Linked DNA regions of Homo sapiens: region 2 is reported to be linked to region 1. The links are microRNA targets in miRTarBase. Many come from high-throughput screens and were not tested one by one. Region 1 holds a microRNA gene; the other region holds the end of a gene's coding sequence.

Evidence for each region. The annotated mature microRNA hsa-miR-4704-5p reads GACACUAGGCAUGUGAGUGAUU and lies in region 1 at 2,703-2,724, opposite strand. An mRNA with a match to its seed (bases 2 to 7 or 8) in the 3' UTR can be bound and repressed. Matches are read on the target gene's strand: a 7mer-m8 pairs with bases 2 to 8, a 7mer-A1 pairs with bases 2 to 7 and ends in A, and an 8mer does both.
Region 2: miRTarBase lists BRWD3 as a target of hsa-miR-4704-5p. Seed matches in the 3' UTR shown: 7mer-m8 at 4,769-4,775.

The regions. Positions count from the first base shown.
Region 1 is chr13:66,215,906-66,220,982 of GRCh38, reverse strand. MIR4704 (microRNA 4704) reads right to left here and starts at 2,733; the gene lies at 2,659-2,733.
Region 2 is chrX:80,672,311-80,677,387 of GRCh38, reverse strand. BRWD3 (bromodomain and WD repeat domain containing 3) reads left to right here. Exons shown (of 41, transcript NM_153252.5): 41 at 25-5,077. The coding sequence ends at 779. Among named protein-coding and RNA genes, the nearest start is that of BRWD3, 140 kb to the left of the region's middle.

The DNA.
Region 1 (5,077 bases):
AGCAACTTCTGTAATCCAGAAGCTAGAAACTGCATACTGAGGATGACAGGGCTGTCCTATGAGCCATATCTGGCTGAAACATACCATCAAAGAGAGATATATGACATTTCAAAGCTTCTATAGTTTTTGGTCTTTTTGTTGTAGCAGCTCAGACTGTACTCTAACAGTACAGTAACATTTTAAAATTCAATTTCCATTTTATGCCTCCATTATTTCCTCATGTTCATTCCTTTTAAAGAGGCTATTCCCATTTGTTCAGCTGAGAAAGCCTTAATTCTTATTCTTTTTTGATGTGATACTTGTCTTGCTTCATCCACTGTGGGCTCTCTTCTATGTTTCGTAAGCACTATGGTCATCCAACTTTCTGTCGTTATTTATGGGCATTTAAAAATCAGCTATAGCCCTTTTAATTTGCACCTTGATGGAAGTAAGGAAATGTAATTCATTTCTATATTTCCATCCTCAGCCCTTAGCACATTGCTTGGCACATGCTATGATTCAAGAACTGTGTTTTGGATGCATGAACACAGAGAAACCTCCAAAAAGGGAATCTAAACCAGAGAAAAGCAGCCTGGGGACCTTGGGTTGGGGAGAGAGGAGCTACCTCACTGCTGGGCTTCCCTAAGGACTGAAGAATAAGGGAGAACACCAGAAACTGAATGCTTGATTGTTATGCATCTGTGCCTCAGGGTGGGTTTTTTTTTCCCTTAATTTTAATTTTAATTTTTTAGTGCCAGCTGGCAGAGGCCACTCTTCCCCTACCAGCTGCCTGCCTGAGGTGCTGGCCAGCTGCCGGCAGCTGTGCTATGGAAAGAGAGCCCACCAGTACCCAAGACAGACCACTGAATATCCCTTCTGTAAGCTTCCTTGATAACTCCCCTTTCTTAACATCTAACCCTGCGAGTTGTTATCCTTTGAACAGACAACTTTCTTCAAGGATTGAAGTGGATGTAGCTCTCTAAAAAAAGGCTTAGTGGATATCAACTTTATTTTCATGACCTTGTTTATATATTCTAGTCACACTACATATTTTTGTTTGTGACTGTCATGTGTGGAAAGGTGTTCCAGGACCTAAATATCATAACAAAAATAGGCATCTCAGTTGAGTGACTGCTTCTTTTCTCATTGCTTTTCCTGGTAAGTGAGATTGTTCAAGAAATTCTTCTCCCTCTTTTTTGGCTTCGGGTTTGTATTCTTGTTCCTATCAGTAGTGACCATAAGTTGTCACCTAATGGAATTAGTTCAGTGACCCTTACAAACTAAATTAACACTCTATCTCCAGTTTCTACTGGATATGTGTCTAAATCACAGTTGGGCACCTTGTTAGCTGCCTCAGTTAAGAGTTCAGTGAAAGAATAAGCCATCCTCCCCTTTCATCCCTAGGGGCTGTCTCTTAGTGTACTAGAGGCTCATTAGCAGCCTTGTAACACTGAGATTGCCCACAGTATACTTATTCTAACAGGTTTTCTTACTTTGAGACATGGTAAATGTCTATTGCAAATCCTGTTGACATTTAATTTTCAAATTATCTTCTGTATTTGTTTGCAATTTACTCATAATATATGCATAATTCCAATCTGTTGAAATATTGATTCTGATTTACGATTTAGTAAATTAAGGAATGGTTGGGTTGCATATTAAACTTTGGAAGTGACTCACAATATATTACATTTATATTACCCTTTAGAGTTGCACAAAGTCCTTCCATAAATACTGTCTATGAGCATAATGGGGAAAAGAATCATGTTTAATTTATCTTTAAATCCTTAGGGATATAACCCAATGCTAGCACATGAAAGACACATAATACAGGGTTTTTAGTGAACAACCAATCAAAGAGGATGATAGATGTGATAGTCTTAAAATCTACCCACAAATTAGTTGATACTTCTTGTATTTGTTTTCTATTGATGCTGTGATAAATGACCACCAAGTAAATGGCTTAAAGCAACACAAATTTAATATCTCACATTTCCTGAATTTAGAAGTCCAAAATGGATCAAAAATCAAATAAGGGCTCCAGCCTTCCAGAGGCTTGAGTTGAGAATCTGTTTCCTTGCCTTTTCCAGCTTCTAGAGGCTGCCTTGCCTGGGCTTGGCCTCACTCTGACCTCAGCTTTTGTCATCTCATCTCCTTCTCTGACTCTGACTCTCCTGCTCTCTCTTATTAGAACCTTTTGTGATTACATTAAGCCTGCCTGGATTATCCAGGATAATCTCTCCATCTCAAGATCCTTAACTTAATCATATCTGCAAAGTTTCCTTTGCCATGTAAAGCATAGCATAGATCTCTGAGATTAGAAAGTGGCATCTTTTGTGGGGGGTGGGAGGCATTATTTAGCCTACCACACTCAAGATGTTAGTCTAACTCCCCTCCTCTTGAATATGGACTGACCTTAGTGAATTGTCTAAGGAATAGAGTACAATTTAGTGACACTACAGGACTTTTCAGGTTAGGTTATTTGAGTCAATACAGTTTCTACCTGGCTCTTTTTGTCTTGGGTTTTGAAACCCTAAGCTACAATATAAGAAGTCTGGTTTCATTGAAGTTACTATGTGTTAGAGAGGCCAGCTGGAGATCACATATACACATGGTGAGATCACACAGAGAGATGATCAAGAGACAAGAGGTGTTCTAGCCCCCAGATGTTTGAGTCTTCTCATTCTAGACACTAGATATGTGACTGATTGAGTGAGGAAGACAATCACTCACATGCCTAGTGTCTAGGATAAGAAGATTCATCCTTAAGATGACTCCAGTCCCAGCCACCAACTGACTACAACCATAGAAAAGACTCGAGAAAGACTGCTGCCCGAGGCTTGGCAGAAAAAAATGTGTGAATGAAATCAATTAAAGGTATTGTTTTAAGCTACTGTTTTAGGGTAATTTACTATGGAGCAAGAGATAATCAGAAAAAATATAAAATATTTTTCCAACTTTAAAGATAAGAAAACAGAAGTTTAAAGATGTCAGCATATAGAAACATTCATGAAGCAAACCCAAATTAGAGAAGAATTAGAGTAACATCGAAAGTACTGAACAGGATCCTGGCCAGATCTCTGAAGTCCAGGTTCTAACGTTTGCTTGTGTGACTTTAAGTATGAGTCTTAATATCTCTGTGTCTCAATCTCCTTATCTGCCTTATCTGTAGAATGATAATAATAATAGTACCTACTTCATAGGTATATTCTGACTATTAAATGGTATAATGTAGATAAACATAAAAGAGTACCTGAAATTATTAATGCCACCAAATTATAAGCTATTTTTTAGTGTTTCATTATCAATTTAGTGCCTTTCTCAGGCTTACCAGTTTCCTTCCAAATAGCACTAAACTCAACTCATGAATGTTCAAGAATATTTTATGAAGATGTCCCAGTTGTCTGGGTTCTACCTCTATTGTCCCATTCAGAAATTTGAAGGGGGGTGGGAAACTTCCCAAATGAATGGCATCTCTGTCTGGAAGCAACTCTAATTCGAATATTTATTGGGCATAATTTGGAGATTCAAAAGCTTATTACTAATGTCCTACACTTTTTCTAAACCAATAGAGAGACTATTTCTTATGGAAAACCCTCTTGTCAGCGAACCAATTCTCAATTACCATTGAACTTTCTCCCACCATCTGCATATCTTCAAATATCTGTTAACTCCTTCCATTTGTCTTCTTACCTTCTACAGTTAAGTTATTTATCTATGATCAAGAAAAAGCATGTAACCAGGTTGCTGGCAGTAAAGGATCTATGGAATCCTATTTCCCCACTGCCCTAAACATTTATCAGCAAACCTCTTACATATCCCCAGTTGGTTTTACCTCCTATCACACTTAGCTCTTATTTCAATAATTGTAGTTTCTTAAAATCCCCAACTGCTCCAGCACTTTTCTTTTCGTCTAATAAATGGTACCAACATCTAAGTCACAGAAAAATATAAAATCCATGTACTCTTACATGGTCTTTTTTTTCCTCACTGAGAAACTCTCGTGTGTCACGTCAGGCAGTCATTGTTGGCAGACACATTCAATATTTAATCCCAGCCAATATCTTCTCAGGCAGTCGTGACAAACTCATGTCTCTCTAGGGATTTTAACTACATTTAAGAGAAGTTTAATTTTCTCCTTGTGGTTTAACCCATCGTTAGAACTCCTCCAAAAAGGGCCGCAGTTACAGAAAGAAAAAAATAGGCATCAGTCCAAGATTTCTTCATTTTTGTTTTTCTTTTGCTTTTCTTCTGAGTTTGCAATCTCATTACCTCTGCACCCATCAACACACACTCTTCACAGTCACAGCTCCACTTTGTTTGGAGCTCAAGACTCTGACCTGTTTCAAAGCAATAACCTATTTGTGCACAGAATGAAAATCATATTAGTGAGGTTGGGTGTTTTTCTTCTTAGGTACTTCTTTCTGTGTTCCAGAGTCTGATAAATCATTTCTTCTGACACTAAACTCTTTAGTGAGAATTTTTTAAATAACCAGTTGACCCTGGATTTTCTCGTGTACTCTCTAACTTGAACCACACATTCTACTATCAAGACAAATCCAAGTTGGTAGCCAACACATCTTCCTGAGAATTTGAGCTAGTTAAGTTAAGAACAAATGAATGTTTTCTTGATTCTTGGTATTAGTAAGAATGGAAACCTGAAGTTGATAAAGTTTTTGATTGAGAAAAGTAGTGTAATGAGGTTTTGCTTTTACCCTATTTCTCCTAAGTGAAGAACGACAAGGCATTGACAGTGAAATTAGTCTCTTCATTTATTGATTTGGCTCTTAAAAAGAAAGAGATTTTAGAGATGTCAAATAGTAAAATCAAAAAGGGATGTGTAAAGAAGTTTTTAGAGAAGCAGAATGGATGCAGATATTCAATGACTGCTTGAGACCTAACGAGAAATATTGGCTGGTTGTGGTGCCATATGCTCATCATCTCAGCCCTTTGAGAGACTGAGCTGGGAGAATTGCTTGAGGCCAGGAGTTCAATCCCAGCAATATAGCAAGACTTGATGGTACATACCTGTAGTTCCAGCTGCTTGGCTGGATGAGGTGGAAGGATCATTTGAGCACAGGAGGTCTATGCTGCAGTG
Region 2 (5,077 bases), not on the chromosome of region 1:
TAAAAATCATTCATTTTAATTTAGATCACTCCCTTGATGGACCCCTTACAAATGGTGATGGCAGAGAGCCCCGGACAGGAATCAAGAGAAAACTACTTAGTGCATCAGAAGAAGATGAAAACATGGGAGGAGAAGATAAAGAGAAAAAAGAAACAAAAGAGAAATCTCATTTATCCACCTCAGAGAGTGGAGAGTTAGGATCCAGTTTAAGTTCTGAAAGTACCTGTGGTTCTGACTCTGACTCTGAATCAACTTCCAGAACAGATCAAGATTACGTAGATGGAGACCATGATTATAGCAAATTCATACAAACCAGACCTAAAAGAAAACTCAGAAAGCAACATGGCAATGGAAAAAGAAATTGGAAGACCAGAGGCACAGGAGGAAGAGGCAGATGGGGAAGATGGGGTAGATGGAGTAGAGGAGGCAGAGGAAGAGGAGGCAGGGGACGAGGGAGTCGAGGAAGAGGTGGAGGTGGCACTAGGGGGAGGGGAAGAGGGAGAGGAGGAAGAGGTGCTTCTAGAGGAGCTACCAGAGCCAAACGAGCACGTATTGCAGATGATGAATTTGATACCATGTTTTCAGGACGTTTCAGTAGACTGCCTCGAATTAAAACAAGAAACCAAGGCAGGAGGACTGTTTTATATAATGATGATTCTGATAATGACAATTTTGTGTCCACTGAGGATCCTCTGAATCTTGGTACATCCAGATCAGGCAGAGTGCGTAAAATGACAGAAAAAGCCAGGGTTAGCCATCTCATGGGATGGAATTATTAACAGTTAATAAATTTAGAATAACTTAAAAAATTCAATGGCCTTCTACTGCAGGGAATTTACCAGGAAATCTACAAAGCAAGTTGTGTGGGGACTTCTGCTTCCTTTCACATTGGTGCTTTTCCATTTATGCCAGTATACATTTGTTTCAAGACTTTTGATCTCCACACTTCATTTGTTCAAATAAGCCTTACTCATTAGGCCTTAAATTAAAAGAAATTCTGCCCACACACACACAAACACATACACACACATACACACACACAGACACACACACACGAAACACAACACAGACACTACAGATTTACTACATTAAAGGAGCATTCAGCTTCTTAAGAGTAGCATGACATTTTTATCTCAATAGAATAGCCCTCTTTTGCTTTTGTATCACAGAAGTATAGCACCTTCTTACAGAGTTTTATATAGTTTGTTTTTGCCATTTTGATTCCTATACCCAGTAATAATAACTTTTGCACAATACACCAATCCTAAAGGCAGCTATTAAATGTTTACAGTTTCTATATTGTAAGAGCGATCTGGATTATTTTACTCTTCCCAGGCCAAACTTTCATGACTTGTACTGAACTGAAGTATATATTTATACTACAGTTTTTTGGGGGGTGGGGGGATCTTGATATGCTTTTCATTGATTTGCATAATTCACGTTAAAGGTGAGAAAGGGTTGGTGCCTTGTAAATATGTAGCAGATCTTCGTGGTGTGTTCTGATGTGTGCATTAACTTTATTAAAAAAGAATACTTGAGGTATCAATCTAGACAAGGTGCCAAATGCAAAAGTTTCCCGCATCAATTTTTTTCCTATCACATTTTATTGCATTAATAGAATTTGTGTAGCTTAAATAACTTAAACATTTGAAAAATCCTCATCCACAAAGAACAACTTCTTTGAACAGTAGCTCAGCTACCTCTTAACTACAACTACTGGAAACATTAAGGAAAATAGATGCTGTTATTCCTTACTGACTAAGGAGAAATAGAACAAGCTTAGTAGGAATGAATACCCCATAAGTTATAAGCTGAGAGGTTGTTAATAATTGTATTGGCTCTCAAATTAATAATTGTAATTAACAAAGTTTCATAAATATAGTATGCTCTACCACCTTAGGCTTTCTTAGAACATATTTGTGTAAGTAGACTTGGGCTACTGCTTATATATTTCTGCTCCACTTACCATTTAACAGCTGTGAGTTGCTGGTTTTCATTTGAATCTTAAAATTTAACAAAGCACCTGGTTTGATTTGGAATGTTTTGGCTAGCTAGTATTATGAATCAACTTATAGATTCTGCTCATATCATTCCAAAGGGTTCTTCTGTTCTAGTCTTTCAGGAAAGAACCTTATTGCACTGCACACTCATGTTGTGAATCATTATTTTATAGATAAAAAACATCTTTAAAAACCCTTATTGTCTTGTTTACAGCAGTAGAGTGCACATGGTTCCATAAGTGAGCTTGAGTTCCAAGGTCAGTTTTACTCCCCAAATTTAATATTACAGATTTGTTCATTTGTTAGATACTTACATTTCTGAGGTAAGAGGGATAATAGCAATTTCTGTTTCTGTAACAGCAAATTTGTTGCACTTAGATCAGGCTCATGGGATAAAACAGACTTCTTAGTATATACCTAGCTATCCCAGGATATTTCTTAAGCTAATGTGTTTGTCTCATGCTTTCAATCATTTCATGCATCTGAAAACCCTTAAGTGCAGAGGAAGGCGTACACACATAAAACTTTGCTTTTTTGGTAGGGTCGGCAGTAGGGTTATTCTTGGACTAACATCTTTAAGCAGTTTTCACTTGCAGTGGAAATGATGTTCAGGCTTTAAGAGAAAGTATTGTGAATTGTTAATGGCACTAACTTCTGTTACTAGACAGCAGACCAAGCTATTTTTTTGTTGTAGTCTTTTTTTCACTAAACCAAAACTACTTCTGGTTGTAACTCAGCTGCCACTTTAAACCATAGTAGAGATTCAAAACGTTCCTATTTGAAACTACATTTGATTTTTGCTAAAATGTGCTGTTTCGGTTATTTATCTCTTGGGCATTTAGACTAAATTGTGCCTGTATTCCTGAAATCAATAATACTTTGGCTTATCCTGATCTAAGTAACATAGTTACTTAAATTCCTGGATATACCCAAATATGGATCACATGTATCATTTTAGTTTGAAATTTTTTGTTGACATTCTTCTATGAAGAGCTGACCTCTTGAAATGTAGAAGAATTGACATTTGTGTGATTTTGGCTATCTGGAGCTTTATTTATAATTTATTTTGAAAAATAAAAATGCCACATTTATTTCCCAAATGTCAAGATTTTCTAGAATTAGATAATTAGAATAATAAGGCTGAAGACATTTTAAAGCATATTTTATATGTAGTGAAATACTGTGAAAATATTAGTGAACAGCATTTTGCTGTAATGTTTATTTCAGTTATTAAGATTTAAAGAGTTAGTCATCAGGGTATGTTAGATAAACATAGTTATCATTTATTAAACAAACAGATAATTTTCTGTTTGCATGCAAATTATTTTAATAAGTGTGAAAATAAAAGTTTGGAAGATAGTATTTTTACTTTTATATCTGGACTTTTTTTTCCCCCAATTTACACTTTGCTTTCTTGTAATACCACCTCCTGTGAATGTGTTGTAATTAGTATCACATTGATTACTTTATCATTTTAATTTCTTTGAGGCCCTTTAAACCTACGTAAAATCTGGGTCCAGCCATAGCAAAGCAAGTACAAAATGAACAAAGAATTTTGAAGAAAAGCCTAAATCTTAAATTGCTAAGAAAAAACACTGTTATATTTAGGCCCGTGAGAGCATATACATGTATAAACCTAATCCTATGCTAGATATGAATAGTCAGTGAGCTGTAATATTTCTCATAAATGCTAATAATGTTTAAATTCCCAGCTTTAAGATCTTAGTGTGTGTATATATTTATAAAATCTGAATTGTGTGTTTCTTCTATGGCTTACTGTGTGTTTCTCTTTCAGCAATAGGATGCTCTCTAAAACATTCACTAGCCTACTAGCCTACTTACTAAATTTTTGTATATGTGTGTTTGTGCACTTGTATGTGTGTAAAGTTTTTTCCCCAACTTGACACACCTTATCTCAGACATTCAAAAAAAGAGAACATTTTGTATGGAGGACAGTCTGCCAACTTTTTGCCTCTCTACAGCTCTTAGCCTGTATATTTACTGCTTGATCATTCATTATGCCTTCTAGATAACCAGTCCAGGTTTTGTCATATACCTGTGTCCCTCTATTCTTTTTATTTCCCTTTTTAATTTTTTTTCTTTTTTTTCCCTCCCCAGAAATCAGGCTTGTGTTGGAATTCTTCTCTATAATACTTTGTTTCCCGCAGATGCAAAGTAACAAAGTAACTGAGTAAAATTAGAAATCTCATTCTGCACAACTGTGCGCTCAGATATTTAACTCAGCCTTCTAATACTTTTAAGTACGTTTCTGTTATTTATCTTTTTGTTGTTTTTGTTTTAATCCCATAGATTGTCATCAGACAATAATAGAGTGATTGAGAGAGAAAGATATAAATGCCACTTCTAACTTTTTGATAAAACTTTTTTGAGCATTTTTCAAAAATTTGTATGTTTGTGGTAATGGGGAATTAAACACCTTTTACAGCTGATGTATGTTGGAAATCATTTTATGTACATTTACCAACTGGTACTTATCTTCAAGTTGGAATTTTCACATCCATAAAAGGGAGACTTGCATCATATATAATTTTCAGTATACTTTGCTGTCCAGCCTTTTAAACAATTACAGTAACATTTTGAGTTCTGTGATGAATAGTTCTAGGGGAAGGGATGGAACTTTCGACATGTAAAGTCCATTGTTTTAAATGCTAACCCCATCCCCAATATTTTTGTGGAACGTGAGGCTTTATGAAAGGTTTATCAGAAATAGAATATTCTAAAGTCACTTTTATGGCTTATTTCAAAAACTAGTGTGAAAGTATTTTCATGCTTTTTTGTTTCTCATCTTTTAGCAAAGCTTCTTTACCAAGTTTTGATTAAATTGCAATATAAAATTAAGTTTTTTCACGGTGCTATATTTTGTGGAATATGGGTAGCACTCAGGTTTCTTTCTTTTTTCTTTTCTCCTTCCTTCTTCCTTCATTCCTTCATTCCTCCCTCCCCCCTCCCTCCCTCCCTCTCTTCCTTCCCTCCTTCCTTCCTTCCTCACCTCGGCCTCCCAAAGTGCTGGGATTACAGGCATGAGCCACCGTGCCCGGCCTATATACCCTTATTCT